7 linked regions of the Homo sapiens genome follow. The protein of the gene in region 7 purifies or fractionates together with the protein of the main gene of each other region. This does not show direct contact. Each region holds a gene or a part of one and is shown on either strand. Other genes may lie near its edges. The genes, in order: ASB1, ERC1, SP3, CNTNAP3, EPDR1, PRMT3 and TSHB.

Region 1 (4,041 bases), on a different chromosome or scaffold from region 7:
ACGTGTGTCAGGATTCCCTTCCTTTCTAAGGCTGAGTACGAATCCATTGTATGGACGGACAGCATTTCCTTTCTAAGGCTGAGTACGATTCCATTGTATGGATGGACGGCATTTCGTTTATCCATTCATCCATCCAACAACACGTGAGGCGGCTTCAGGCTTCGGAGTTGCTGAAGCTCCGAGTTCGGGATGTGCAGCTGTGGTGGAGCCAGGGGCTGGGCACACCCCTGGCTCCTGGCCTGGCAGCGTCATCATCGGAGTCACCTGTCCCTCATGCCAGTGGTGCTCTCTGCTGTCATCAAGACCAAACACCACTGTAGGAAGTACCCCCACTCCCGCCTCCAACCCCCACAGGGCCTGCCAGGTCTGCCCCCAGTGGGCCCCCTGGTGCATCTGGGCCACCCAGGGCCAGCCTCAGCAGGGGCACTCGCGGGGCTGCGCCTGCGGCTTCCCTTACTCCAGTCTGGAATGTTGTACACACGGATGAGCCAGCAGCTCACGCCCACGACTGCTGGGGTCTCCGGACTCCCTCATCAGCCTCCTGCTGTGCTGTGTACAAATCCTCCTCCTGCATGAGGCCCCGCTGTCTAACTCAGCAGGGGAGAATGGGAGGAGCCAAGGGAATCCGTGCTTTAGGACCAACACCAATACTCATGGTGGGACGACGCTGCGATATTTGAAGTTGGGAGTGTGCAAGAAATGTTACTCGGTTGTTCACGAATGCATTCATTTATTCAATGAACTTCGCGTCAGCCACTGGCTGTCATCAGTTACCGACCTGATTGAGGGCTTCATGGAAGGGATTTGGAGGAGCATTCATCTAAAACCACAGCACGCTGCGACGCTCAGCCCTGCAGTGGGCCCTCACCAGTCCCCGCGCCTCCGAATCCACCCTCCCGGGGCTGCTCGTGGCTAGCGGGGGGCACCTGCGGGGACCAAGCCAGCCCGGCCGAGGCCCGGGTCCCGCCCGCCACGGCCCTCGGGGCCCCGCCCACATCTGGCAGAAGCCACGCCCCGTCCGTGTGGGTGGGGACGGCCCGCCGGACCGAAATTCCCAGACTGCTGCCTCAGGCAACGGGCTTTCCGACTCCTTGGCTTCTTATGTGAGGAAACCACAGCGCGGCCGGCATCCAGAGAGTCGGTTAGCCGCGAAGTTCCCGCCGGACGAAGGGACCAGCCAGCGCCCTGCTAGACAGCGAGGCCGGAAGCGGAGGCGTGGCCCCTGCGCGGCCCCGGAAACCAGTGAGGCCGGCGCGCGCCCGCCGGAAGCCGCGACCCCGACGCGCCCCCCATTGCCCTCGGCGCCGGAAGTGGTCGCGGGTCGTTCTGCTTCCTGCCCGAGGGGCGTGCGCGGGTCAGGGGCGGCCGCGGAGGCGGAAGCATCCATGGCGGAGGGCGGCAGCCCAGACGGGCGGGCAGGGCCGGGCTCCGCAGGTAACGTGCGCGCGGCCACTGGGCCGCGGGGCGTGTGGGGATGGCGAAGGGCTGGCTCCGGCGTCCCTGCCGAGGTCCTGCGTCCTCGTCCCGGGCTGGCCGGGTCCACGGGGCAGCCAGGGAGCCGCACCCTGCAGGCCGGGGGTGGGGTTCAGCGCGGCTCGCAGTGCTGGGCGACCCCACCACGGACGCGCTGCCCTCTCCTCGGCCTCGAGTGCAGTCCCCGCGCTAGATTTTCTTTCCGGTGGAACTTGCTCGTAACTTCCTTCCCGTTAGCCGATACAGATTTGATATGACCCAACCGCAAAAGTAGGACGTGGGCCACCTTCCAGCTCTGAGCGCACGGATCAGGAAAGCCAGCCAGAGGGTAGCCCTAGGGAGGGCAGGCACTTTTTCACCATTCTGCCGCCCACGGCGTGTCCGGTGGTACAGCGGGGGGCAGCCTTCCCACCCACCACAGGCACAGACCAGGGACAACGGGGACGCCGTCTCCAGCGAGCTCGTCAGTGACACAACATGTCCAGGGGCCTTTGGCCCACCAGCAAGGGAGGCAGATAGAAAGGCTCACACCCACCTTCCAAAATAACTGTCCTACTTAGGGTCTCCACCTTGCAGTGTCCCTACCATGCAGATGTGAAGGAAGCGGTCAGGACAGGTTCCCGTTTCCCGGTGGTGTGGTGGGAGTTCCTTCTTGCTGGATTTCTGAGCTTGCCATTCGCGCCAATAGTTTCGTGTGTTCTGGGCTTTCTTTACATGCCTATATTTGTCTTTGGAGGGGTTCCTCTCCTACTTAGTAATAAACCAATACATTTCTTAAACATCTTAAAAGATTGACTTGGAGACTGGTGCAGATAGGCTTTTCCATCCATCCCTCCCTCTGCACCTCCTTCCAATCATTTAACAGACTTGTATTGAAGACCTGCTGTTGGCTAGACCCAGCAGAGGATACTGCAGTGACCAGAAAAAGCCAGACAAAGCATCTACCATCCTGGGCTTTGGTTGGCGTTGACTTTGACTTCAGAGACAGCCAGGACCTTAGGGTCTAGGATGTCATCTCATGTGAGAGTGAGAGACGGAATGATGCGTGTTCCGTGGGAAAAAGAGGACCAACAGCTACTTCCCAGTATAAAGAGAGTTCCTGGGGAATAAACACTGGCTTTGTCGGCTGCACAGGTCTCCTTTTTTTTTGAGACGGAGTTTCGCTCTTGTTGCCCAGGGTGGAGTGCAGTGGCGTGATCTCGGCCCACTGCAGCCTCCGCCTCGGGGGTTCAAGCGATGCTCTGGCCTCAGCCTCCCTAGTAGCTGGGATTACAGGTGCTGGCATCATGCCCGGCTAATTTTTGTATTTTAGTAGAGACGGGGCTTCACCATATTGGCATATTGGCCAGGCTGATAGCGAACTCTAGACCTCAGGTGATCTGCCCGCCTCTGCCTCCCAAAGTGCTGGGATTACAGGCGGCAGCCACCACACTCAGCTGAGGGCTCCTTTTTATATCCTCATGCACTGCTGTTTTGTTATTCAGTGTGTTTCGGCCTCGGGTAGAGGGGCAACAGATTTTCAGTTGAAGCTTAAGTGCTATCCTGGGGCAGTTGTGTTGTCATTGGAGTAGTTGATCAGCGAAACACAAACTTGAAGTTGCTTTTGAATCTGGAGCTGGGGAAAGATTCTGAGTCTACTTTGAGCAGGGCCAGGAATGGATAGCACAGAGGCCAGCAGAGGGGGCCCAGAAGAGGGCTCAGCAAAAGTCCTGTGGCCGCCATTTACCTGTTGGTTATTGCCCTACACCTGAATCTTTCCCACTCCGACTTTGAACTTTTTCACTCTGTAGTAACCGCAACTGTGGAGTAATTACAGGGGAGGATAGTTACTGAAGGAAGACTGGGGTGGTGGCTTAAAGAGCTGTTCATGCCGGCTTGTTGATCTGCGGCGAGTCTGGTTGTGGGATCAGCATGAGCAACTCAGTGGACTGTCAAACCCTGCAGAGCCGGGACACTTACTCATCACCCCCGTTTCACCTGTGGTTGAGTCTCATGTACAGTAGTACTGAAAAGAGATTAATTTTAATATAAAAAACAATGTCAGCATCTGGAAAGAGCCCCCTTATGGAGGGGGTGCTTTATACCTGCCTGTCTGGTCTCACACTAGGACAGCATGGCAGAGCAGGGACTTGAATCCAAGTGGTCTGAGTTTTTGCTCTTTACTTACACACGAATCTGTGTAACTATTTTTACAAAACTCTTAAATCTTCAGGAGTTTATTTTGGGTTATGATGTGAGGTGAATAACTCAATTATTTCCTAATAAGTATCTGATTGTACAAATGCTGTTTGTTGAATACTCTTTTCCATTCTCGCTGATTGTGATGCCGGTTTATCACATTCAGGCATACCTTGGGGATAGTGTGTGTTCAGTTCCAGAACACTGTAATAAAGTGAATACTGCAGTAAACCAAGTCACATGAAATTTTTGGTTTCCCAGTGCATATATAAGTTATGTTTACATGATACTATGATCTATTAAGAGTGTAATAGGCCAGGCGCCAGTGGTTCATGGCTGTAATCCCAGCACTTTGGGAGGCCGAGGCAGGCAGATCACGAGGTCAGGAGA
Region 2 (4,249 bases), on a different chromosome or scaffold from region 7:
AATATCTATTGACTCCTAGTTGAATTTTCTCTTACCTTACCACACTGCTAGGGAGTAACAAGATGGGCAGATCACGAGTCAGATGAGAAAGGTCATGAAAAATAGTCAAAGGATGACTTTTCCTGGGTAAATAGCCGGATGTCCAAGAAATGAAAGGCTGGTCTGGCAGCAGCACATCGTCTAACAGTTGGTAGTCATATGTGGGAAGTACTGAAGGGGGAGATGACAGCAGGCCCAGAAACTGCAATGATCCAAGTGCATGTCGATCCTGGGAGGGAACAGTTAAGAGTCCGGGCAGGATGAAACAGTAGAAACTGGTGAGTGAATGAATGTGAAGGCTGAGGAGCGACTGCAATTTGTTAATGGGATTATGAGGCAGTATAAAGTGGTTAATTACGGTGGCGGAGGTAAGCAGGAGTAAAATGATGGCTTTTAACTCCTCTCAAGGACACCGAAAATTATTTTAATAAACACTGGAAGGCTGGGAATAAATATAATTCACACCATTCTTACTTTCTTGGTTTAGAGATAGCTTATCTACATCCTTAAATTAATGGCTGTAGCTACCCTCTGCATGGCTCCAAAAAAAAAACAAAAAACAAAAAACAAAACCAAAGCCGGCTGCGAGTCTGCACGAGAAAATCGGGTTGCACCAGGCCCCAGCCGCCCGCCGATTCGCTTAGCTGTCGGAGGCTAAATAAACAGCTCCCGAAGCAGCGTTTGGCACAGCGCAGGGTCGGAACGTGGACACTAATTTCCGCCCACGCTCCCCGCGTCCTGGCGGGATCACCACAGACACGACGTCCATTGCTGGGGTCCTCGGCGATGCCCGTGTGCGCAGCCCCGCGAGTCTCAGGTCAGAAGACCACTAATTTCGCGGCCGCGTTCCACGAAGCTAAGGGGCAAAAAACCAGCTTTCTTGGGACAAAGCGTCCCCCCAGCAGCCAGGGTCGATCCCGGCGCTGCTCCCGCGGCGCTTGGCTGCCCCGGGCGTAACGGGCCACGAGAAGTAGGGGGTGGGGCGCCGCTTAGGTTTGGGAAGACACGAAGCGGCTCCTCGGGCTTCCAGCGTCCACTTCCTACGGCAAGCAGGAGGAGACAAGCGCCACCCTGCGCTCGCGGAGCCGACCCCGGCTCTCCCCTCCCGTGGCCGCAGGGGTCGTGTGTGTGTGTGTGTGAGTGTGTGTGTGTGTGCAGGGACGCTCCGCGCCCATCACTCTGTTTCGGTGCTAATCGACCGCCGTGGCGCCGATTTCCCCCGCTTCCCAGTTCCTCACCCGCGTGCCCCGGAAGGCGCCCGGAGGCCCCCGGGCCGCCGCGTCACGCTCCCGGGAGGCTGAGGGAAAGGGAGGCAGCCGAGCCGGGAGCCCGGGGAGGCGCGCTGCGCCCCGCGGCGGGGCTGGGGGCGGGGCTAGGTGTCTCGCGCAGGGGGCGGGGCGCGGTGACGTCGCGGGCGCCTGGGCCGTGCTGTGGCGGCGGCGGCGGCGGTAGTGGCGGCGGCGGCGGTGCCTGGGCGGCAGCAGCAGCAGTAGCGGCAGCCCTGAGGACGGTGAGACGGCCGCGGCGGCGGCGACAGCGCGGAAGTCGCGCGGGACCCAGAGCTTCCCCCCTGTCGCTAGTGCTGAGGCTTTCGCCTTTCCTACCCAGCTTCTTGCTCACGGCCCGGGCTGGGCTGGGCAGGGCAACGCGCCCCCGGGGAGGGGCGGAGCTGTAGGTGAGGCTTCGCGACCCCCTCCCCCTCCTCGGCAGCCCGGGGGGTGGGGAGGGGCGGGCCCCACCCAGACCACCGGCGCCCACCCGCGGGCTCCACCCAGCCGGGCTCCGGGATCGGGCGGGAGCCGAGGCGGTAGATGTGGGGATCCTGGGGCGGGAGGTGGGGGAGTGGGGACTGGGGCTCTGGGCACTTGGGGAGCGGAGGGGGGGAGGCTTAGGACTAGTGAAGCCGCGGACGAGGTAGTGGGGAGACGGAGAAATTGGGGAGCCATGAGGTTGGGGTGCGGTCAGGGTGGATCTTTGGGTTAGGTGAGTGATGTAAAATGCTGAAGATGATTCTTTTCTTTTCGATGAAATGGTGAGATAAAAGATGAAGTGTATTTCAAAAGGACGATGAGCTGTGCATGTTGCCTTTGAGGCAGTTGCAGAACCTATTTTATTGCACTAGATCTCACGTTTCTACTTTAGGGTTCGATTCTTTTTCTTCTGGCGGGGTGGGTGGGGGGTCGGAGAGGGAAGAGAATCCCCTTACTTTGGCTCAGGTAAATTGTGAGCGTGGATGTATCTGAAAGTTTTACACCGAAGAAGAGGGAGATCTTCGGTTTAGACAACTTCGTTCCGGCAGCCACCATTTGGGTCGCATTACGCTTAGCTCCTTCAAGGTGGTGTCTTCCAGTTTTTTTTCCCCCCAATGCCTAAAAGATCTCTTTATACCACCCTTTTACAGGCTTTATCCTGGCCCCTTGAGAGAAGGCCCCAAACTCAGGTGGTTGCTTTGGAAGGCACATTGCTGAATAATAGTTGCAGGTGGTTGTGGTTGACTGCTTTGGGTGGATAAAGTGAACAATTGGAATAGTTCTGTTGGAGCTAATTATATGAAAAATGCTTAAATGTTTTAAAGTACAACCGTCTTTTATAGCGTGTTGCTTGCTCAGTACACCTTGACTTTTAGACATTTTGTGTTCAGTGCTAAATTGTTGAAATTTTATTTCTCATTTGCAGTTATGTTTCTTGCAGTCTTTATTAAAACACTTTAAAATGAAATGGAACTCTTTTTTTTTGGTAGGCTCCTCAATTTCTGAGAAATGTTCTTGGAGTCAAGTGCTTTAAAAACATTTTGGGGGCAGGTGTGTCACTTTGTATGGAAATATTAGAGTAAGCAGTGTTCAATGTTCTTCACATCACTCTTTCACAACTTAGCACTGTAAATCAGAATCTTCTTTTCTGGATTCTTGCTCCCTGTTAGATTACAGTATTCTCTGGCCCTACTTATCAGTTAGTGTCATTTAAGCTATTTCTTGTTCAGAAAACAGGTCCCATGATGGACATGTATTATGTAATGGATGGAAGTAGACATGGCTCTCAATAATTCATTTATGGAGGAAGAGAAGCTGTCAGAAAGTGGGATTTAAGCAGTGACTTTCCCAAGGCTTGCCTAGTTTATTTGGGAAAATAGCCAGAGAAGTGCTTTCTTGTAACCCAAAAGAGAAATATACAGATAAGAATTTCAGTAGTTGCAGATCGTTGCTTTTTCTAAGTGCCTACTTAATGAGCAGATTATTGTCTTCCAGCAAATACTTCTACTTTATAGAGAGGTATGGGAAACAGGACATAATAGGTATTAAGTGAGAAAGTGTGTGTTCCAATTTTTAATTATAAATAAAAGATTTAATTAACTGTATTCAGTTAATTCATTTGGTAAAGTGAACAGTTTTGACTTTGGATTAGTTAGAAGGAAAACAAAATTGACATATCTAGTTTTCGCTTTTAAATTATACATAGACTTAATTAATTGGGACAAATGTGAACTAAGATACTGGGTAAAACTTGTGTGTACTCCTAAAATGACATTTGCATGGCTGGTAGTAAGCTGTGATTCTTGTCCTTGTAGGAATGAAATCACATAATTTGGGGAAAGTCTTAAGGTAAAAGTAAGCTATTTCGTTTAGCATTTCTTGTGCCTGAAATTATGCCTACATTTTATTTTTCAAAAAATGTTGCTTGCTAGTCATTACTTGTGATATCCTTGTTGAGTCTACTGAGGTGTTTTTTTTCCTTCATTACCTGTGTCATAGATAAGTATGCCAGTCTGTTAATTCAACATTAATACTGCAAACTTAAAAGTGAAGGTTCTTGGCCGGGCGCCGTGGCTCATGCCTGTAATCCCAGCACTTTGGGAGGCCGAGGCAGGCGGATCATGAGGTCAGGAGTTCGAGACTAGCCTGGCCAACATGGTGAAACCCTGTCTCTACTAAAAATATAAGAATTAGCTGGGCGTGGTGGCACATGCCTGTAATCCCAGCTACTCAGGAGGCTGAGGCAGAAGAATTGCTTGAGCCTGGGAGGCAGAGGCTGCAGTGAGCCGAGATCATGCCACTGCACTCCAGTCTGGGCTACAGAGCGAGATTCCATCTCAAAAAATAAAAATAAAAATTGGCTGGGTGTGGTGGTGCACACCTGTAACCCCAGCTACTCAGGAAGCTGAGGCAGGAGAATTGCTTGAACCTGGGAGGTGGAGCTTGCAGTGAGCCGAGAT
Region 3 (3,500 bases), on a different chromosome or scaffold from region 7:
GATAATGTCTTCTATTTAAAATTCAACATGGGGATATATGATGTAAATGGTAATGTCCATTTGAATATTTTCATATAAGTATATATTATTCTATGTGTGTTTTTTAGAGGTACCAATCTTGGGAAAAAGAAGCAACACATTTGTCATATACCAGGATGTGGTAAAGTCTATGGGAAGACCTCACATCTGAGAGCTCATCTGCGTTGGCATTCTGGAGAACGCCCTTTTGTTTGTAACTGGATGTACTGTGGTAAAAGATTTACTCGAAGTGATGAATTACAGAGGCACAGAAGAACACATACAGGTTACTAATACTTACTTTTAACAGACAAAAATGAATTATAGGGCTACATAACTGCCTTGACTTCTTTTTTATTAGCATTCCTTACTGAACTGAATCGATTTAAAATACAATGAATTACATCCAATTTTTACCTTTAGTAACACCATCTTAATAACACAAATTCCAAAGAACAAGTCAGTCTGGCTTATCTTCTAAAATAAAGTTATATTTAAGTAGACTTTGGGTGGCTTTTGTTGACATTATTGAATGCTTTAAACCACATTTATACTATTTTTATTCTGTTAACATTTTTAATTAGTTGTCAGCTTTTACTCTTGATCTATCCTATTTTTTTTCTTTCCTCTTAACACTGTAACAAAAAATACTCCTGTTTCTTCTGACATATTTGGGCATTTCACCTTTTCTTTTGTTTTTAGTATCTCTGAGGTAAGGGAAAGGTATTTCACTGAGGAATAACCAAGGCAATGTTGATGTGAAGACTTTCTCTGATTATATTATTTTTACATAGTGTTGTGTGGTTGTTAAATGAAATGGACCTGTGACTGATCTACACTGAAACCTAACAGTGTTAACTTAGAGATAGTTTTTTCCTACTACCATGTAAATGATTAAAGTGTTCATCAGTCTATGCTCAACACTGGAGAATTGAAAACTATGTATTTACAATCCCTAGAGAGCTTGGAAGAAGCATGGTAAAATGGAGAACAACATGGATTTTGAAGTCATCTGGATTCCAATCCAAGTTCCCTATTAGGTTAAGCGAATAAACTATCTCTGACGTTGCTTCACATATCCTACTTTGGCCTTCAGTATTGTATAAAATTACCTATGAAGTCTGTAGTAGTATACAGATGCTCTAATAGTTTTAGTTCCTGTCTCTCATTGGGTAGGTAGACAGATGAGATTAACCTACATGAAACTGCAACAGACAATTAAGAAAGTAGATAAGGCTGCAGGGCGTGCTGGCCCATGCCTGTAATCCCGGCACTTTGGGAGGCCAAGGAAGGCAGATTGCTTGAGCCTCAGGAGTTTGAGACCAGCCTGGGCAACATGGTGAAACCGTGTCTCTCCTAGAAAGACAAAGAATAGCCGGGCGGATGGTGTGTACCTGTAGTCCCAGCTGCTCAGGAGGCTGAGGTGGGAGGATTGCTTGAGCCCATGGGGCGGCGGTTGCAGTGAGCCAAGGTCATGCCACTGTACTGCAGCCTGGGTGACAAAGTGAGATCCTGTCTCAAAAAAAAAAAAAAAAAAAAAAAGGTAGATAAAAGATTTTGCGTTGCAGTCTGCTGTTGAAAAGGCTCAGAAACAGAGATAATTACTGCTTGGGATAGTAAAGTATGGGATAATAGATCTTATGATGGCCCTGTTAACAGAATTTTCCTCAGTAGGATTTTATCAGCAGGTTGTAAAAAGGAATAATGTAAAAGGGAGAAAAAGGTCAATGATCAAATAAGTGTAGGAAATAGTGGGCCAAAGAGGGTATAAGTACCTTCAAGGCAGTACCTCTTAGGACCTTTAAATTAAATGCTAGATTGACAGCTTGCATCTATAAGTTAGTGATGTAATGTGTGTGTAGCATTTCCTAACCTTGTGCCGTTTGCCATGGAGTACCTCTCAGGACTAATGTTACAAGAGAAACTGGGAAATACTTTAGTAGAAAAATGGTGGTATGTTAATAGAAGAAGTGAGAGACCTTTTTTTGTAGCGGTGAATGAGGATGAGATTTTACATAACATTTCTGTTAAGTAGGATTGAGGCACACTTTAAAGGTCCTTGTAAATTAGGCAGTGGAGCATCTAAACTGTTACGTCATCTGCAAGTTACCCTTGCATTTCCATATCACTTAATATAATCTTGAAGTTTTCTGATGTAATAAAATTTGGTCTTTAAGGAAGATAGTCTGGAGAGAGAGAGAGACTAGGATGTGACTGCAGTATAGTTCAAGCATGAGGTCTGATAAAGACCTATGTAGAGTAGAGGTGCTAGAACAAAGGATACAAGCTAAGACATTTTTGAAGAAAGGAATTAAGAAAATATTTACTAGATTTATTGATTGATTTTTATTGATTTCTCTCTGAATTCCTTTTAGGTTGGCCTTTTGTCTTCTCTTTTGGTAATCTTGCAGAGTCGGTCTTCAACATAATAGAAGTTCAGTCTGTCTTTTGTATTTAAACTTACTTTATTCATGCTGGGAAATAAATTTAGGCATCAGGATTTTAACAGCTTTAACATCTTAACATATTAGGCTTGTTCTTGATTGTTGTAGCTGAAGTCAAGTCAGCTAGCCAGATTCATTTTTCTAAGGATTACTCATTCTTTTTGGATCTCAAGCTTGTGGTGTCATTTCTTTAATCTAGAAGTACCCTGTTGCTTTAATTCATATTTAAGAGTTGAAGGTTTAGTATCATGAACATGGCATGTTAGTATTTTAATTATAGCGTGAAAGAATATACTTTTATTTAGACTTTAAAGTGTGTTATAGATGCTTATTTTTTAGCTGGCATCTTAACACAGGTATTTCAAACAAACTCTTAGCGTAGTTGAGATATTAAAGTCTTATTTGAATATCCATCTATTATATAATACATGTTTGAAGACTGCTAGTCATCAAAAAGTAAAGATGAAAGATTTAAGGAGAAATATTCTGTAAGAGAAATCTGGCAGGGGTAGCTCGTAAAATGAATACAATTTTAATAGACCCCTGCTCCCATCCTCACCTGTCAGCGTTGACTTACTTTCTGTTTTGGGGGAGATGATTGAGCTATTAAAGTTGAATTTTTAAAACCAAGTAACTTAATTTTTTTCTTAACAGGTGAGAAGAAATTTGTTTGTCCAGAATGTTCAAAACGCTTTATGAGAAGTGACCACCTTGCCAAACATATTAAAACACACCAGAATAAAAAAGGTATTCACTCTAGCAGTACAGTGCTGGCATCTGTGGAAGCTGCGCGAGATGATACTTTGATTACTGCAGGAGGAACAACGCTTATCCTTGCAAATATTCAACAAGGTTCTGTTTCAGGGATAGGAACTGTTAATACTTCCGCCACCAGCAATCAAGATATCCTTACCAACACTGAAATACCTTTACAGCTTGTCACAGTTTCTGGAAATGAGACAATGGAGTAAATATTACACAAATACTTATTCATTGTGGTTATTTTTATACAGTAGTGAGAAGAATATTGTTCCTAAG
Region 4 (3,500 bases), on a different chromosome or scaffold from region 7:
CAATGCTAATCCTCTTGAAATAATTTGGTTTTCAAAACTCTGTCCTTGTACTGTTCTAATTTTAACATCAGTAAACCATCATTGTTATTTTTGTTTTTAATTTTTAGAGACAACGTATTGCTATTCAAGCCTCTCTGTTGCCCAGGCTGGACTTGAACTCCTAGGCTTGAGCAATCGTCTTACCCATTGTCCCTTGTGACAATGACTTGAAGTGATTCAAAAGGCCTTTATAGAAATGTCTTTTCTTATAAAACAAGCATACTAACTAGAAGGGGAAAATAATATTTAAATATTGACAGTCATTAACAGGATCACTCAAACACTGTGCTCTATGATGTTTGACTCTTCTTAGAGGAGTGCAGTGGGGTATCACACAGCTTCTGCTCAGGTACAATCATGTTTTCAAAAGAAAAGGGCTGGGCGTGGTGGCTCATGCCTGTAATCCCAGCACTTTGGGAGGCCAAGGCAGGCGGATCACGAGGTCAGGAATTCAAGACCAGCCTGGCCAACATGGTGAAACCTCATCTTTACTAAAAATACAAAAATTAGCCGGGCATCCCAGCTACTCGGGAGGCTGAGGCAGGAGAATTGCTTGAACCCGGGAGGCAGAGGTTGCAGTGAGTAGAGATCGCACCACTGCACTCACTCCTGGGCGGCAGAGTGAGACTCCGTCTTGGGGAAAAAAAAAAAAAAGAAAAGGAAAAAGGGACTGATTTTAGTATTAAGTACTCTGTACTGACTTATTTAATATATTTATAATACTTTTATGAAACCTCTTACAATATTGAATCATCAGAGCTAAAATGTAGTTGTGTTTTTAAGTGTCTCTGGGCTGTTACACTTACTATTTTTAGCAGCAAAACAGGCTTTAATCACTATAAAATTGTGTGACTTTCAAAAAAATTTTGAGGATTCATTATCTAGAAGTCATTTAAATTTTCAAAAGGTCTTGCATGTGTCTTTTATCATTCCTGAAGATCTCTGTGCTAACAAATCTCATAGCTCTGGTGCAAATACAGAGCCCTTTTTATATCTCAAGCCAACATCAGGAGTAACCACTCCTTCATGAGCACAAGTGCTGATTTCTAAATCATTCCCAATCCACATTTGCTAAGTGCAATTTGAATGTTATTTTATAACCCAAAATTTTCTTAAGGATAGACATTATATAGTAAGTAAATGGAAAATGGTCCTCCAGTGGCTGGGGCATATGTTATAGTTAGATTACCTAATCTAATAAGAATGATCTGGATTTTCAGTAAATTCTTTATATTTTATGGAAATGGAAAGAGTGGAGTAGTATTCCAAGACAATGATCATCACCCAACATTGTCTTTTTATTTACAGATATATTTGGGGGGTGTGTGTATGTGTATGTGTGTACTAAACACATTTTTGGAATTAACTTGATATAAAATTAAAATATCAACCTTTCATAAAGTGTTTTAAGAGAATCTGAAAGCCCTTCAACTTTTCTCTCTCAGAATACTGTAGATACCACTTTGGATTAGCCTTTCTATCCAGACAGTAAATTTGAGAAACATCTTTGGCATAAAAGAACATTTCTAAATTCTGACCTTGAAGGAGGGTTGGTCTTCAAATCACCTTTTCTCTAGTTACTTCAGGAGCTCTGTTTCATGCTTCCTACAAAGCAAATCGATTTTTAAAGAGGAGGTAACATTCAAATAAAAAACCTGGTACTCTGGCATTTCCAGGCTGGCCACATAAGGAGCTCTGTAAACCCTCTCTCATACGAAACAAGCATAACTAGTAAAAATTATTATTTTAAAAAACAACTATTGAAAGTCTTTAGAAGATGTCCTAAGGAAATACATCAAATGAAGAAACATTTATTAATCAGTAATAATAGTGAGAGTTTGAGGCATTTAAGCCAAGACCCTCTCCCAGCACCTCCCCATCCCTAGCTCAGTATGACGGAAGCTCCACTCTATATGGATATAGCCAAGAAGCCAGAGGTTTCCTCTCTACCCAGGTCCTACTCCAGAGATACTGCATTACCCCAAGATTGGGTGCCAGCATTTCTTGTCATCCCCAGTTTTGTAGGACAGAAGCTCTGTCCACGCAGAAACAGCTGAGAAGTCTGGGGTTTCCTTCCTACACCAACTCCTCATTCCAGGACATAAGGTCTTCAGGTGTGGCAGCTGGAAAATCCTGTGTCCCAATTGCCCTCACTCCAGCTTACTTGTAAGGAACAGTTTCTCCACCAGGAGAGGCAAGGCAAGAAGTTACCTTTCCCACCCTGTGCCCTACTTGTAAGCAGAGGTTTTACTACAAAGGAGCAGGCCACTCTCACTCCCCACAGCTTCAGAGCAGTGAGGCACATTCAACCAAGAGGTAGAGGGAGGCCATGAAAATACACAGCTTGGTAGCCCTCCCCAAGTGAACTGATTTCTATTTGGAACAGAGGATGGATAAGTTTAAGCATAGTGGTATGAAGATATTGGCAGTAAGCAATTAAGAGAATTTTGATAACTCCAAGAGAGTAATGAGTTAAGCCAGGGAAGTTTAACAGAGAAAAGAAAAAAGAGTCAGCAAACTTGAAGCAAGATCAATAGAGATTATGTATCCTGAAGAATACAGAGAAATAATAATGAAAAAAATAGATCATCAGAGAAATATCAGACATAACTAAGCACACCAATATATACGTAATTGAAAATACCAGGAGAGAGAGAAAGGATCAGAAAAAAATATTTGAAAAATAATGGTTGAAAACACCCCCAAATTAATAAAAATCATTAATCTAAGATACAGAAACTCAGTGAAATACAGATGACACAAAGAAGTTTATATCCAGACACATCTTATTAAAAACTTTGAAAGCCAAAGTCAAGAAGGAAATTTTAAAAGCAGTAAGAGAAAAATCATATATACAAGGAAACGCCAGGATCAACAGCTACCTTCTAATCTGAAAGAATGGAGGCCACAGGACAGTGAGATAACATATTCAAAGAGATGAAAGAAAACTATTGTCATGAAGAAACTTACACCCAGCAAAACCGTCTTTCATGTTCAGTAGCACAGGATGACTATAGTTAACAATAATTTATTGTATATTTCAAAATAACTAGAAGAGTGGAACTGGAATGTTCCTAACAAAAAGAAATGATAAATGTTTAAGGTGATGGATATCTCAGTTACCCTGATTTGATCATTACACATTGTTTGGTTGTATCAAAATATTACCTCTACCCCATAAATAACGTACAACTATTAGGTATTCATAAAAACTAAAAATTAAAAAAGATAGTAAATATATCCCTACTTACAAAAAACAGAGAATTCACTGCTATTAGCCTGCATTAGAGGAAATAACAAAGAACGTTCCTTCAGGTTGAAGGGATATAACCCAGACAATAATCTGAATCTACACACAAAAAACAAATAGCACTAATAAAGGTAAGTGTGCAGGTAATTATAAAAGAAAGTATAATGTCATATTTCTTACCCTTTTCAGTGCTTAACTATTTTAAAAAGCA
Region 5 (3,500 bases), on a different chromosome or scaffold from region 7:
CACATATTATTCTCCAGGAAAAGTAACCAGGGCTTCTTGAAAAATGGTTTATCCTAGGACTGGGGCAGGAAAAGTATAGATGATCTTGAAATATCTTGCTGTGCCGGAAAGCAAGGAAGTGCCCAAACACATCAAAAGAACATAGAAACCAATTTGAAGAGGCTTCCACTGGCCAAATCTAGGACATTATGAACAGCAAAGTAAACAACGAGAGCAAATAGAACAAAATTAGAAGGCTTGAGTCCACACTGATACAAATAAAGTATAATTCAGAAGATTAATGAAGAATGGGATATGTACATGGTTTTAAAATATTTCCCTACCAAATCTTACTAATTAAAAAGAAAAAATGTATCATTTCACAGTGAAGAAGGCTGGCAGACAACAGTCAATCAGGTGATCAAAGTGAACATCAGGATGCAATTGGAACAGAGTATTATCCCTGATATTCCTGCCAAAGGTAAGTAACTTGAATCTAATTATGAGGAAACATCAGACAAACCCAAATCAAGGAACATTCTACAAAATAACTGGCCTGCAATCTTTAAAAGCACTAAAGTGCAAGGAAGACTTAGGAACTATTCCAGACAGAAAGAGACCACAGAGACACCACACTTAAGTGTAATGCTTGCATTTAAATCTTTTTTTTTTTTTTTTTTTTGCTATGAAGAACATACAAAGAACAACTGGCAAAACATGAATGACACCTGAATTTCAGATGGTCAAAATGAACTGGTGTTAATCTCCTGACTTTTATGGTTGTATTGTGGTTATGCAGGAGAATGTCCTTGCTGGGAGGAAATACACTGAAGCATTTGGGGATCGTGGGTATATCAGTTTGGCAACTTACTATCAAACAGTTCAGGCGAGGGGGAAGCTCTTTGTATTATAATTGCAACTTTTCTGTAGGTGTGAGATTGTTTCAAAATAAAACAAAATTATGTATTTGAAAAATAATCCTCATCCTCCTTTCCAAACACATAAGATTACTGAAGTTACCTTAGGTGATAGCAGCCCTGGGAATTAATCATCCACAGCTGATACTTGGACCAACACCCCTATAAGCAACACTATTCCATTCTTAGTAGGAAGGGAGGCTCAGTTGAGTGCAGAGCCTTCTGAGTTTGGGCCCGAGGCATTTCAAGGTAGCCTCTTCTCTTTTTCTACTCATAAGCACAGGCTTAGATGAAAAAGAGAAGGAAGAAAAAGAACTTTGAATTAATTTGTCTACACAATGGGACAGATTGAGAAAAAATTTAAAATCTGTGTCAAGTTCATTGCATTAGAAACAGTGAATCAGCCTGATATAATAAAAGTACAATTGGTGCCTTCAGGATATCATTTAATACTATCTGTACCTAGCATTTAACAAATGAAAGCCTAAAAGTGATTTAGTATCAACATTGTAGGCATCATTCAAATTAAATTAAAAGATGAAAAACACAGAGGTTCTGCAATGTTGAGGACCTTATTGGGGTGAAGGCAGGATTAGAAGCCATGGTTGTCACTCCATCATGGTCTAACATGAATGCCCCTGCTCTCTCCACTACAGGAGGCTGATTCTCTGTTTAAAAAAGAGGTTAATGCTATTCTCTTCTCCAAGAAATAATATGCTCTGGGAGAATCAAGAGAAGCAGACATGAATTAATCAGAATTTGAATAAGAATCCACCTGCTGCCCCATTTGTGACATATTTTTCATGTTTTACAAATACAAATCCTTAATAGAACATGTACGACTGGTGATGAAATAATATTCCAAGATACCAGACTGTGCATATTGTTTTACTGCCTCTCTGCTCACTCTGCATTAAGAGCTTCATTGATTCCAACACCCAAGCCACCATTTTGTAAGGGGGAGCCTATAGTTACTGGTGGCCTGAGAGGGTTCATTGTGTATCAACGCTGCTTCCCCTATAAAGTTCAACATGCTGCCTGAAATATGAAAATCATCTTCTTGATTTCCTTCAGTCTTTCAAATAAATACTTGTGAATTTAATCAAGGAGTCAGAAAAGACAGTTGGAATTAGAAAATAAAATGGTATCAATTACTAATATTTCCCATTTGCTGCTCAGGCTTGTCTTATCTGAAGCTTGTAAAGTTGTTTAATCTTTTCCATCATCTCAGGGAAAACAGAGCCTGGAAAATCCTAGTCATTCCACAGTAACTATCAATGGGATTTTCCATAACTATCTGGATGCAAAATGAAAATCTTAAGAAGTTGATCCAATTCTAAAACTTACTTCTCAACTTACTCATAAATATGAAGAGACAACTCATCCATATTTTCTTCAAATAACATCTGGTTGCTTGGCCAGACTGTTAATACCTGAAAAAGTTTCTGAGTTTGTTCCAACAAATCTACACTTAAAGAGCTTAAAAATGTGTTTATGCATTAAACATTCTTTTCCACATCTGACTTAGGGCCAGCGATGTGACTGTCAGAAAGAACCTTGCCAAGAACTCGGAAAGAAAGGGAAAACAATGTCTTTTAGAAGTTTAACTGTGAAACCAGCACCTATTGGATTAGGGCAGAGGAATGAGAAATCACCGCAAAGGGACAAAAATGCTTCTAAGCCAGCAAGAGTTGGCTGTGACTCCACTAAAGGTATAAAACACACATCTAAAGGCTATATTAGTCAGTCATGGAGTCATGGAAGAAGGGTTGCTCAGACAGACTTGAGCAGTACTCACCAAGGGTCCATTCTGAGTGGAAGGGGTCAGGAACAGCACAGTTGGGGTAGCACAGAACCACCACCAAGTCATCTCTATTGTGAAAATCAATGCATCACTTTGCCTTTGCCTGATTACCATTAAACCTTACCCCAGGCTGGCCTGTCTTATTCATGATGGAAAACTCCACATTGAGCATACAGCCTAACCTAGGGCAGGCAATCATTAGATGTTTGCTCAATGAATTTGCTCCAACTCTTTGCTCACAACTGCCTGATGATAATTTGGCTCCCCACATAGTTCTGACTACAGGGAGAGAATGACCTAGTCTGGTGGATTTGAGAATGCTGGTCCTCATGCCAGCAATAAGACTCATTGAAGTAGACAGGTTTAGCATTTGAGTTTCCTTACTCGAAGGTTGTTCCCAAAGGAAGGGTCTGTGTGTGCTGCTGTATCAAGTTTCTGAGCCCAAAGGGCTGGCAGCAAGTCTCTGGGCTATGGTAACTTTACCAGGATAATGATGATAGTGGTAGCGATGGGACCAACCTTGGCCATGAACAGAGCATCTTGTGCGTACTATCAGACATTGTACTGTATGTTTTATACACTTGAGCTCATTTAATTCCCATAATAATCCAATAAATTAGGCATTATAAGTATTCACATTTTGTAAATGAGGATACTGAGACTCAGAAAGCTTTATTAACTTACCCAAAGACCCATATTCAGAGTCTGGATTCAGATCCAGATTTGTCTGACTCTAAAGTCTAATTTTTTTAATTGTAAAAAAAAAAATACTACCTTTGGAGAGATGAACCCTTATCCTT
Region 6 (4,038 bases), on a different chromosome or scaffold from region 7:
ACATTTGTGTTCTTCCCCACACAGCAGCCAGATTGTTACTTTCTCAACACATCTGAGAGCATCACTCCCTGGCTTAAATAGTTATGTCTGAGCACTTTACATGTATTAACTCGTTTTATCCTTACTGTAGTTCTGAAGTTAGTCCAGGTTTTTTGTTTTTTGTTTTTTTTTTTTTAAGATGGAGTCTTGCTCTGTTGCCCAGGCTGGAGTACGGTGGCACAATCTCGGCTCACCACAAGCTCCGCCTCCCGGGCTCAAGCAATTCTCCTGCCTCAGCCTCCCAAGTAGCTGGGATTGCAGGCGCGTGCCACCACACCTGGTTAATTTTTGTATTTTTAGTAGGGACAGGGTTTCACCATGTTGGCCAGGCTGGTCTCCAACTCCTGACCTCAGGTGATCCGCCCGCCTCAGCCTCCCAAAGTGCTGGTACTATAGACGTGAGCCACCGTGCCCTGCCCAAGTGCAGTTATTATCCTTGTTTTGTATTTGATGAAACTGAGGCAGAGAGAGGTCGAGTAACTTGCCCAAGATCACAGTTACAAAGTGACGTGGGTAGGATTCAAACCCAGCAGGCTGCCTCTAGAGTTCACGTTCTCACTTAACCAAAGATTAAAATCCGTCTTGGGGGGTTTGACACCTATCTGTCCCTGCAGTAGACCCACCCTGGCCCATGCAGTTCGTTCCCTCTCGCCAGCTGCACCCCCTCCAGGACCTGGGAGCCCAGAAACCAGCCGAGCCTCCAGCGTTTGGCCTCCTCCGCCACCAGAGGGCGTCATGGGCCGATCGCCCCTCCGCTAACCGCTCATCCCAGGAAAAAGGGGCGCACAGAGGACAGGATGCCAACCCCAAAACCGCAGCGACGTCTCTCTGCCTTGGGGCTCACAGCAGCGGGCCGCGACCTCCCACTAACGCCTGCCGCAACCCAAGGAGGAGACAAAAGTCATCTTCCGGGCTGCAACATTAACCGTCATCAGCGCGCCTCTTCAGCGCGCACTGCGCCAACCCTGCGGCAGGAGGAGGCGGAGCCCCCGCTCTCGCCCCGCCCCCACCTCACGTGACCCGCACGGCGCCTCGAGGCCGGAAGCGATTGCGAGCCAGCGCGCGCGCTTCGGCGTTCCCGGCGGTCTGCGAAGTTTCCGGAGCCCGGGTCCCGCCGCGGGTTCGCGCTTGTGCTCGCGCTCGTTCCTGGAGTCGGCGGCCGCTGCGCGCGCTCGTTGCCCAACCCGGTCCCCGCCCCCAGACACGCCGGGCTCTCGGGGCACCACAGCCATGTGCTCGTTAGCGTCAGGCGCTACCGGTGGGTACCCTGGCCCCTCAGCACCCGGCTCGTCCAGCCCCAGGCCGCGCCGCTGTGGGGCCGGTGGAAGACCCTCCGGGACACGGGCCCGGGCAGGGTGGGGGGCTCGCAGGGATCATGAAGGAGGTGCTGAGTGAGGGCCGCGGGCGAACGGGGCGGAGGAGAGCCCATCGTCACCTGCTCCTCGAGCCCCCGGGCCGCACCGGTGTCCGAGGCCGATCTGATTGTTGTGTGTGTGTGTTAGGCGGCCGGGGCGCTGTGGAGAATGAGGAGGACCTGCCAGAACTGTCGGACAGCGGGGACGAGGCCGCCTGGGAGGATGAGGACGATGCAGATCTCCCCCACGGCAAGCAGCAGACCCCCTGCCTGTTCTGTAACAGGTTCGTCCGCCTCAGCGCCTGGCCTCTGCCCTAGGGTGCCCGGGCGCGTGGGGTCTGTGTGCCCAGGAACGCCTTCGGGCGGGAGGCAAGCCAGAGTGGCCTGTCTTTGAATTCTGGAACCACTGGTCTGGGGTGAGGGCTTGTGGAGAAGGAGGACCCTCGGTAGTAGAGAGGGGGAACCGTGAACTGGAAGGCCGGTTGTACTGCAAGCTTTTGACTGGTAGTGCATTGAATCTGTGGTTCCCAAATCTTGTCACTTGAGACGCTGAAAACAAAATGATACTGAACTCTGCACCTGAATCCTTCCAAGTCAGGGATGGGGTCTAAGAATATTCTGTTTTTATGAGGACAAGATCGGAAGTAACAGTGAAGTTACTAACGAGTTACTACTAACGAGTAACATATTTGGCAGCCACCCTGAACTAGATAATCCCTACGGAGCCTTCCGGCTTTACCATGCTAATTCTTTGACCAGTACAGAGCTTCTCAGGTGAAACATTTCTTTTTTATTTGAGCGGTTTCCATAGTCTAAGAAGGAAGTTCACCTTACTTAAGTAGGACTTTTCACTTAAGGAAAAAGACTGTAGTATCAATAATTTGCTCAAGGTCACAAAGCTGTGGTGTGCTTATTTCCAAACTCACATTCTTGCCACTTAAAATTCTGCCTGTTAGTCTTGGGAAGCTTTGGCTCCTGTCCTAGGCAAGTAGGCATGAAAGAGGCCCGGTTGGCATTGGCCGGTGTTACTTTAATACATTTTCCAGTGTTCCCTGTATCTGGGCATGGTGCTGAGTGGTGGTGCGTTAGTGTTCTCATCTGTAGCCCCATTGGGTAGATAGAATGCCTGTATATATTCTAGTTGTCATAAAATATTTATTGAGCACCAGTGGTACCGTGGCTGTGATAGCCTCCATAAATAGTCGACATAACCTATCTCGGTAAACATTTGTGGAAAACTAATGCTCCACATGTGTTAGGAATATAGATAAGGTATACAGCTTCTCTGCTGTGTATTCCTGTCTTTAAGTAGCCTTCAGATTTGCATGTCACATAATAAAGAGGATTGATCCTCACAGTGTCTGTGATGCAAGTACGTTGGGAATACTACAAGATCACTTTTGAAATAAGGCACTTGGGGAGTATGCCAGCTGTAAAATTACATTTTATGCTTTATTTCTAAAAGCAGTTTGAGCTGTGCCAGTTCAAAGCCTCTGAAAGCAGAGTTGACACTTAGAGGAGAAAAGAATCTCAAGTAGAGAAATTGTATGACTTGAGAGAAACAGACTCTATCAAAGGGAACTCTCTTAAAAGCCTTTTGATAAAATCAGTGATATTATTTGACAAATAAATTCACTTTGACATTTAAAGGATAATTGGTTTTAGGTATAAAATGGGACTCAGAAGTACTAATTCCCTTTAAAAGTGCTGGATTCCCTTCCTTTCAGATACAAGTGTGTTTGTTTTTTCTTAATTGGAAGTAAAACTAGAAACCAGCAGAGTTAAAAAAAAAAAAAAAGTGTATATGTAACATGAAATCAGTATTTAGACTTCTTAGGGGACTATTCCATGAAGCTATTGCTTGATTTTTCAGGTTATTCACATCTGCTGAAGAAACATTTTCACACTGTAAGTCTGAGCATCAGTTTAATATTGACAGCATGGTTCATAAACATGGTGAGTAGTTTTTAGAATAAAGGCAATTTAATTTGTGAAATTTGGGCAGGCATGGCAGCTCACACCTGTAATCCCAGCACTTTGGGAGGCTGAGGTGGGTGGATCACTTTAGGTCGGGAGTTCAAGACCAGCCTGGCCAACATGCTGAAACCCCACCTGTACTAAAATACAAAAGTTATCTGGGTGTGGTGACGCACACCTGTAATAGCAGCTGCTCAGAAGACTGAGGCAGGTGAATTGCTTAAACCTGGGAGGCAGAGGTGGCAGTGAGCTGAGATGGTATCACTGCACTCCAGCCTGGGCAACAGAGTGAGACTCTTCTCAAAAAAAAAAAAAATCTGTGAAATATAAGTTCAGATTTTATAGTTTTTCAGACCCTTTTCTGTACGAGTTTAATATGGCGAATCACACAGCAACATCTTGTGGAAATGGAGTTTTTTTGACAAGCGGTCCTTGAGAAAAGATGAATAAGTCACTCTTCTAGACAAGATTCACTGTATTTAAGCTTATATTAGCTTTTCAACTAAAAACAAAAACAGACTTGGCATGTGATTACATTTTTACATTTTATGTGATTACATATTAGATTTAGGGAGAGCAAGTGTAGATGTAGGACTTGAAAAAGGACGCAGGTCATTTGAAAAAAGACAATCAGCTCAAAGCATGACATGAACTTCACAGCCTACGAG
Region 7 (3,993 bases):
TGGATCCCTTCCCTACACCATATAGAAAAATCAACTCAACGTGGATTAAAGACTTACATGTAAAACCTAAAACTGTAAAAACCCTCGAGGATAACCTAGGAAATATCATTCCAGATGTAGGACCGGGCAGAGATTTCATGACGAAGACGACAAATGGAGTTTCAACAAGAACAAAAGTTGACAAATGGGACCTTTAACTAAAGGGCTTCTGCATTATGGCCCAGAAACTTTCTCCAGGCAGTTTCTCCCTGTTTGTTTCCCATCTCTCTAGGATCGTGTACTTTTGTTACCTGATGTAACAGGAAAAGAAACTATCAACATAATAAACACACAACCTACAGAATGGGAGAAAATATTTGCAAACTATGCATCTGACAAAGGTCTAATATCCAGAATCTATAAGGAGCTTAAACAATTTATAAGCAAAAACTGAAGAACCCCGTTAAAAAGTGGGCAAAAGACATAAACAGACACTTTTCAAAAGAAGATATATACATGGCCAATAAGCATATGAAAAAATGCTCACACCACAAATCATTAGAGAAGTGATATTACCTTTTAATAGAAACTGAAGAGGTCAAGCATGCCAATGTCATATGGCAAGTAAATGGCAGGGCCAAAATTTTATCTCAGGTCAGCTTGACATCCTGTCAGATGTGGCCATGTTCCTCAGAGTCATTCTTTCACATGTGTAAATTTTACTTAATATCTTAAAATCCCCCAAAAATATTTTGAACTACACATTTTGTTCTAAACAAAATTTTTAGATGAGGAATAATTTTATATATCTTTACATGAACATTTAGGTAAAACTTGAAGCCCTCAAGCCCCAAATAAATTTTTATTCCCAAGACTTATTTAGATGATGTTAGAGTGTTTTTTGAATTTGGTTTTTCCCATTCTGTATCTATCTTTTATTAATATTAATAAATAAATATTAATAAAGAATATATTTAAAAGGTAATTTTATTTTGAAACAGAAGAGAGGAAAATGCATGCTTTAATAATGTCAGTTTCCAGGTAAAGATATTGTGAGCTTGTTTGTCTAAATACATTTTATTTGGAATTCAGTATGAATTTTCAATAGATGCTTTTCAGATAAGAAAGCAGTAAATCAAATGCAATTGTATAAACAAGAAGATCAGAGGGATTATCCTGAAGGGTATAAAATGAACCAAGAGCTTTTAGTTTGGGTCACCACAGCATCTGCTCACCAATGCAAAGTAAGGTAGGTGTCTATAGTGAGAAGGCTCTGTGAAATGATATGTTCTTAAGCTATTTTTTTTCACTTTCACCATTTTATCATTTTTTAGAAAGTGGCAAATGCTGAAAGATAATTTGCTTCAACAGGCTGTAATATCTTAAATTACTGCTCCAAATTGTTTAGTAGTAGATGGAGGTGAGAGAACTACCTACATAAGGATAAGGAAAAAATTCATTGACTTAAAGAAAGAGAAACAACTGATTAGTTCCCTAATGAAGGATATTTGATATTCATGGCTTTCTTCTGTTTTCATTTTGATTTAAATATTGTTGTCCATTTAATGATGTGTGTATTAAATCCTCTCAATTACTGTACTAATGGCCATCTTTTATGAAAATGTACTTCCGGGAATGTTAGAGCAAATTCATTTTTGAGTACCTGCTGGGGTAATGTACTCTGTATTATAAGTTCTTTTTAGTTATTTAATAGCTAAACCTCCTTTGATAGTGTTCAACACACACACAGCTGCTGTATAGTACATTTTGCTTTCTAGAAAAATATACTGCTTTAGTGAAGTTCCAGGATTATTCATAGGATGGGCAATTAGTTCTTTTCATAGTAAGGGATTTGGAGAGTAAAAATTAATGAAGGAAATTAGCAGAGCAGAGAGGAAAGTGTTTATTAAGAATGAAGCATTGGGAGCAAAAATAAGAGAAAAAAAGAGAGGAAAGAGGCAAAGGAAAGAACATATCTTGGAATAAGAAAATACGTTCAAAGTAGGGACATATATGTCCATGCATCTGAAGAAGGCATCTCATTATTTAGGCCCTGCCTGAAACCATGCCTTCTATGTTTAGGTACCCAACAAATTATTCATGGTGATTTCAGAATAAGCAATTAAGTGGCAAAGATGAGAACCCAGATGACAATGAGGAAGAAATTGTGGCATATCACAGAGGAAGGGATTAACTAACGCGGATTTGTACAGTGTTATACAGCTATGTGATCTTTCTTATATAGAGAGCCAAGTGTTTCACATGTATTGTTTTATTCTTTTTATGATTTTAGGAAGGGACATATGGAAAAATGAAGGCACAAAGATATTAAATTGCTCAGTTGCACACAATTACAATTAAATCCTTAAGTAGAATTTAGATCACTAACTCTTAATCAATCAATCAGATCTGACACTAATTTATCATATAGAATTACAGACTATTTGTGCTGCGAAGATTTTCATGATCATCTTCTGGCTCTAAGCCCTGCTTTTATAGGTGAGAAAGTTGAGGCCCAGAAAGATTCTGTGGGTGAAGTTTTACTATTCGCAATAAAGAAGTAAAGGAAAAGAAAAGTTCTTGCTTTCTTTATGCCCACAAAGTTGTACAGATACTGTGGCTGGTAATTCAGCACTTCCATTTTCTACTTTTGTTAGTTTAGAGTTCTACATTTATAGGAGAAACTTCAAAAAAATATAGAGTATCCATAGTTAGTATGACAATAGGAAAACCAAAACAAATTTTCATCCTACATTTTAAAAAGGGTCAGGTGTACTTGTCACTTTCTATTTTGCAGATGGGGAAATAACACTCAAACAGATTATATATTTTAGTCAAGTTCTCATAGATTTATGGAAGAATTCTGTTTCTTAATTTTTAGACCAATATTTTCATCACCAGGTCACCACATTGATTTTATACAGAATTATAGAGCTAAAAGTTAAAATATGTGAAGTTAGTTGTTTCCTATAGAAAAAACTCAGTAGCTGGCTGTCTAAACAAGCAAGAACTATAATGGCCATGATGGGTAAGCATTTTACATAATTTACCAGTTAGTAATTTTAAGATCCTACAGAGGATCATCAAGTTCTGTATCTCTAAAATACTGGAAGCAACTCTGTACCATAGAGGGAGCTCACATTTGAGAAGCGCTTGAGAAAGCCAGATTCCATGAGTAAGGAATTTGTATGTTTTTGCTCCTTAACTCAAATACCAAACAAACCTTCCGTGGAATGTTTGAATATGCAACATTTCATTTAAAAGAATTTGTGAGAAAAACCCCTGTTATTTTAACCTTTAAAAGTTAAGTCTTCCTAAAATGGGTTAGTTTACTTTCTTGTGTAATAAGAAGTATAGTAAACATAAATCTTTGATAATTGTAGGTCTTAAAGTCTTAATTTGGACTCTTTCAGAGCACTAGAACAATCTGCGTTTTTATTATTTGTGTTCATATTAGCTCCTCCACTGGACAGTCAGCCCTTTAGGTAAAGGACCGTAGCTTTTCCGTTTGTGTTTGTCAGTGCCTGGTTCAGATGCTCAATATATGTTTATCTAATTTATCTACAATTCTCATTCTAGGAATAGAAGGTTGATTGAAATGACCACTGATCTCTGGAATTTGACATTTAAAATAAATCCCTGGTAACCTGTGTAATGTGGTTTTCATGGTTTCTTATAAGTTGATTGAAAAAAAAATCCTGGTTAACCAAGGCCGAACCTATGAGGTTTCAGTTTACAGAGGTTTTAGTGTATATAGCTTAAAGATGCTGTTGGGATATAACTGACAGATTTGGGGAAATCTTGGTACTTCTGATTATTGAACAAAATATTTAGTAAATTATATTTTATTTAATAGAACAAGCAAACAAGTTTATGTTCATAGACCACAATACTACTCCATTAAGGTATATATTTTCTTTACTGACAATGATACTTGAGAAGGAAAAAAATCCAAACACATCTAGCTAGCTGTACAATATTTGTAAGATTAAAAAAATTCTTCTTAATCTTCAA

The links.
Region 1: the proteins of TSHB (region 7) and ASB1 purify together in Homo sapiens (affinity purification with mass spectrometry; 2 studies listed by BioGRID and IntAct, with this or other methods). This does not show direct contact.
Region 2: the proteins of TSHB (region 7) and ERC1 purify together in Homo sapiens (affinity purification with mass spectrometry; 2 studies listed by BioGRID and IntAct, with this or other methods). This does not show direct contact.
Region 3: the proteins of TSHB (region 7) and SP3 purify together in Homo sapiens (affinity purification with mass spectrometry; 2 studies listed by BioGRID and IntAct, with this or other methods). This does not show direct contact.
Region 4: the proteins of TSHB (region 7) and CNTNAP3 purify together in Homo sapiens (affinity purification with mass spectrometry; 2 studies listed by BioGRID and IntAct, with this or other methods). This does not show direct contact.
Region 5: the proteins of TSHB (region 7) and EPDR1 purify together in Homo sapiens (affinity purification with mass spectrometry; 2 studies listed by BioGRID and IntAct, with this or other methods). This does not show direct contact.
Region 6: the proteins of TSHB (region 7) and PRMT3 purify together in Homo sapiens (affinity purification with mass spectrometry; 2 studies listed by BioGRID and IntAct, with this or other methods). This does not show direct contact.

The regions. Positions count from the first base shown.
Region 1 is NC_000002.12:238,425,686-238,429,726, forward strand, and holds the start of ASB1 (ankyrin repeat and SOCS box protein 1), read left to right. Parts: upstream 1-1,241; 5' UTR 1,242-1,385; coding exon 1,386-1,434; intron 1,435-4,041. UniProt on the Homo sapiens protein: Probable substrate-recognition component of a SCF-like ECS (Elongin-Cullin-SOCS-box protein) E3 ligase complex which mediates the ubiquitination and subsequent proteasomal degradation of target proteins.
Region 2 is NC_000012.12:989,774-994,022, forward strand, and holds the start of ERC1 (ELKS/Rab6-interacting/CAST family member 1), read left to right. Parts: upstream 1-1,449; 5' UTR 1,450-1,549; exon of another isoform or gene 1,550-1,714; intron 1,715-1,776; exon of another isoform or gene 1,777-1,846; intron 1,847-4,249. UniProt on the Homo sapiens protein: Regulatory subunit of the IKK complex. Probably recruits IkappaBalpha/NFKBIA to the complex. May be involved in the organization of the cytomatrix at the nerve terminals active zone (CAZ) which regulates neurotransmitter release.
Region 3 is NC_000002.12:173,909,874-173,913,373, reverse strand, and holds part of SP3 (transcription factor Sp3), read left to right. Parts: intron 1-107; coding exon 108-304; intron 305-3,116; coding exon 3,117-3,433; 3' UTR 3,434-3,500. UniProt on the Homo sapiens protein: Transcriptional factor that can act as an activator or repressor depending on isoform and/or post-translational modifications. Binds to GT and GC boxes promoter elements. Competes with SP1 for the GC-box promoters.
Region 4 is NC_000009.12:39,096,168-39,099,667, reverse strand, and holds part of CNTNAP3 (contactin-associated protein-like 3 isoform 1 precursor), read left to right. Parts: intron 1-3,500.
Region 5 is NC_000007.14:37,923,640-37,927,139, reverse strand, and holds part of EPDR1 (mammalian ependymin-related protein 1 isoform 1 precursor), read right to left. Parts: intron 1-3,500. UniProt on the Homo sapiens protein: Binds anionic lipids and gangliosides at acidic pH.
Region 6 is NC_000011.10:20,386,478-20,390,515, forward strand, and holds the start of PRMT3 (protein arginine N-methyltransferase 3), read left to right. Parts: upstream 1-1,238; 5' UTR 1,239-1,269; coding exon 1,270-1,297; intron 1,298-1,541; coding exon 1,542-1,677; intron 1,678-3,266; coding exon 3,267-3,349; intron 3,350-4,038. UniProt on the Homo sapiens protein: Protein-arginine N-methyltransferase that catalyzes both the monomethylation and asymmetric dimethylation of the guanidino nitrogens of arginine residues in target proteins, and therefore falls into the group of type I methyltransferases.
Region 7 is NC_000001.11:115,028,633-115,032,625, forward strand, and holds the start of TSHB (thyrotropin subunit beta isoform 1 precursor), read left to right. Parts: upstream 1-1,193; 5' UTR 1,194-1,228; intron 1,229-3,993. UniProt on the Homo sapiens protein: Indispensable for the control of thyroid structure and metabolism.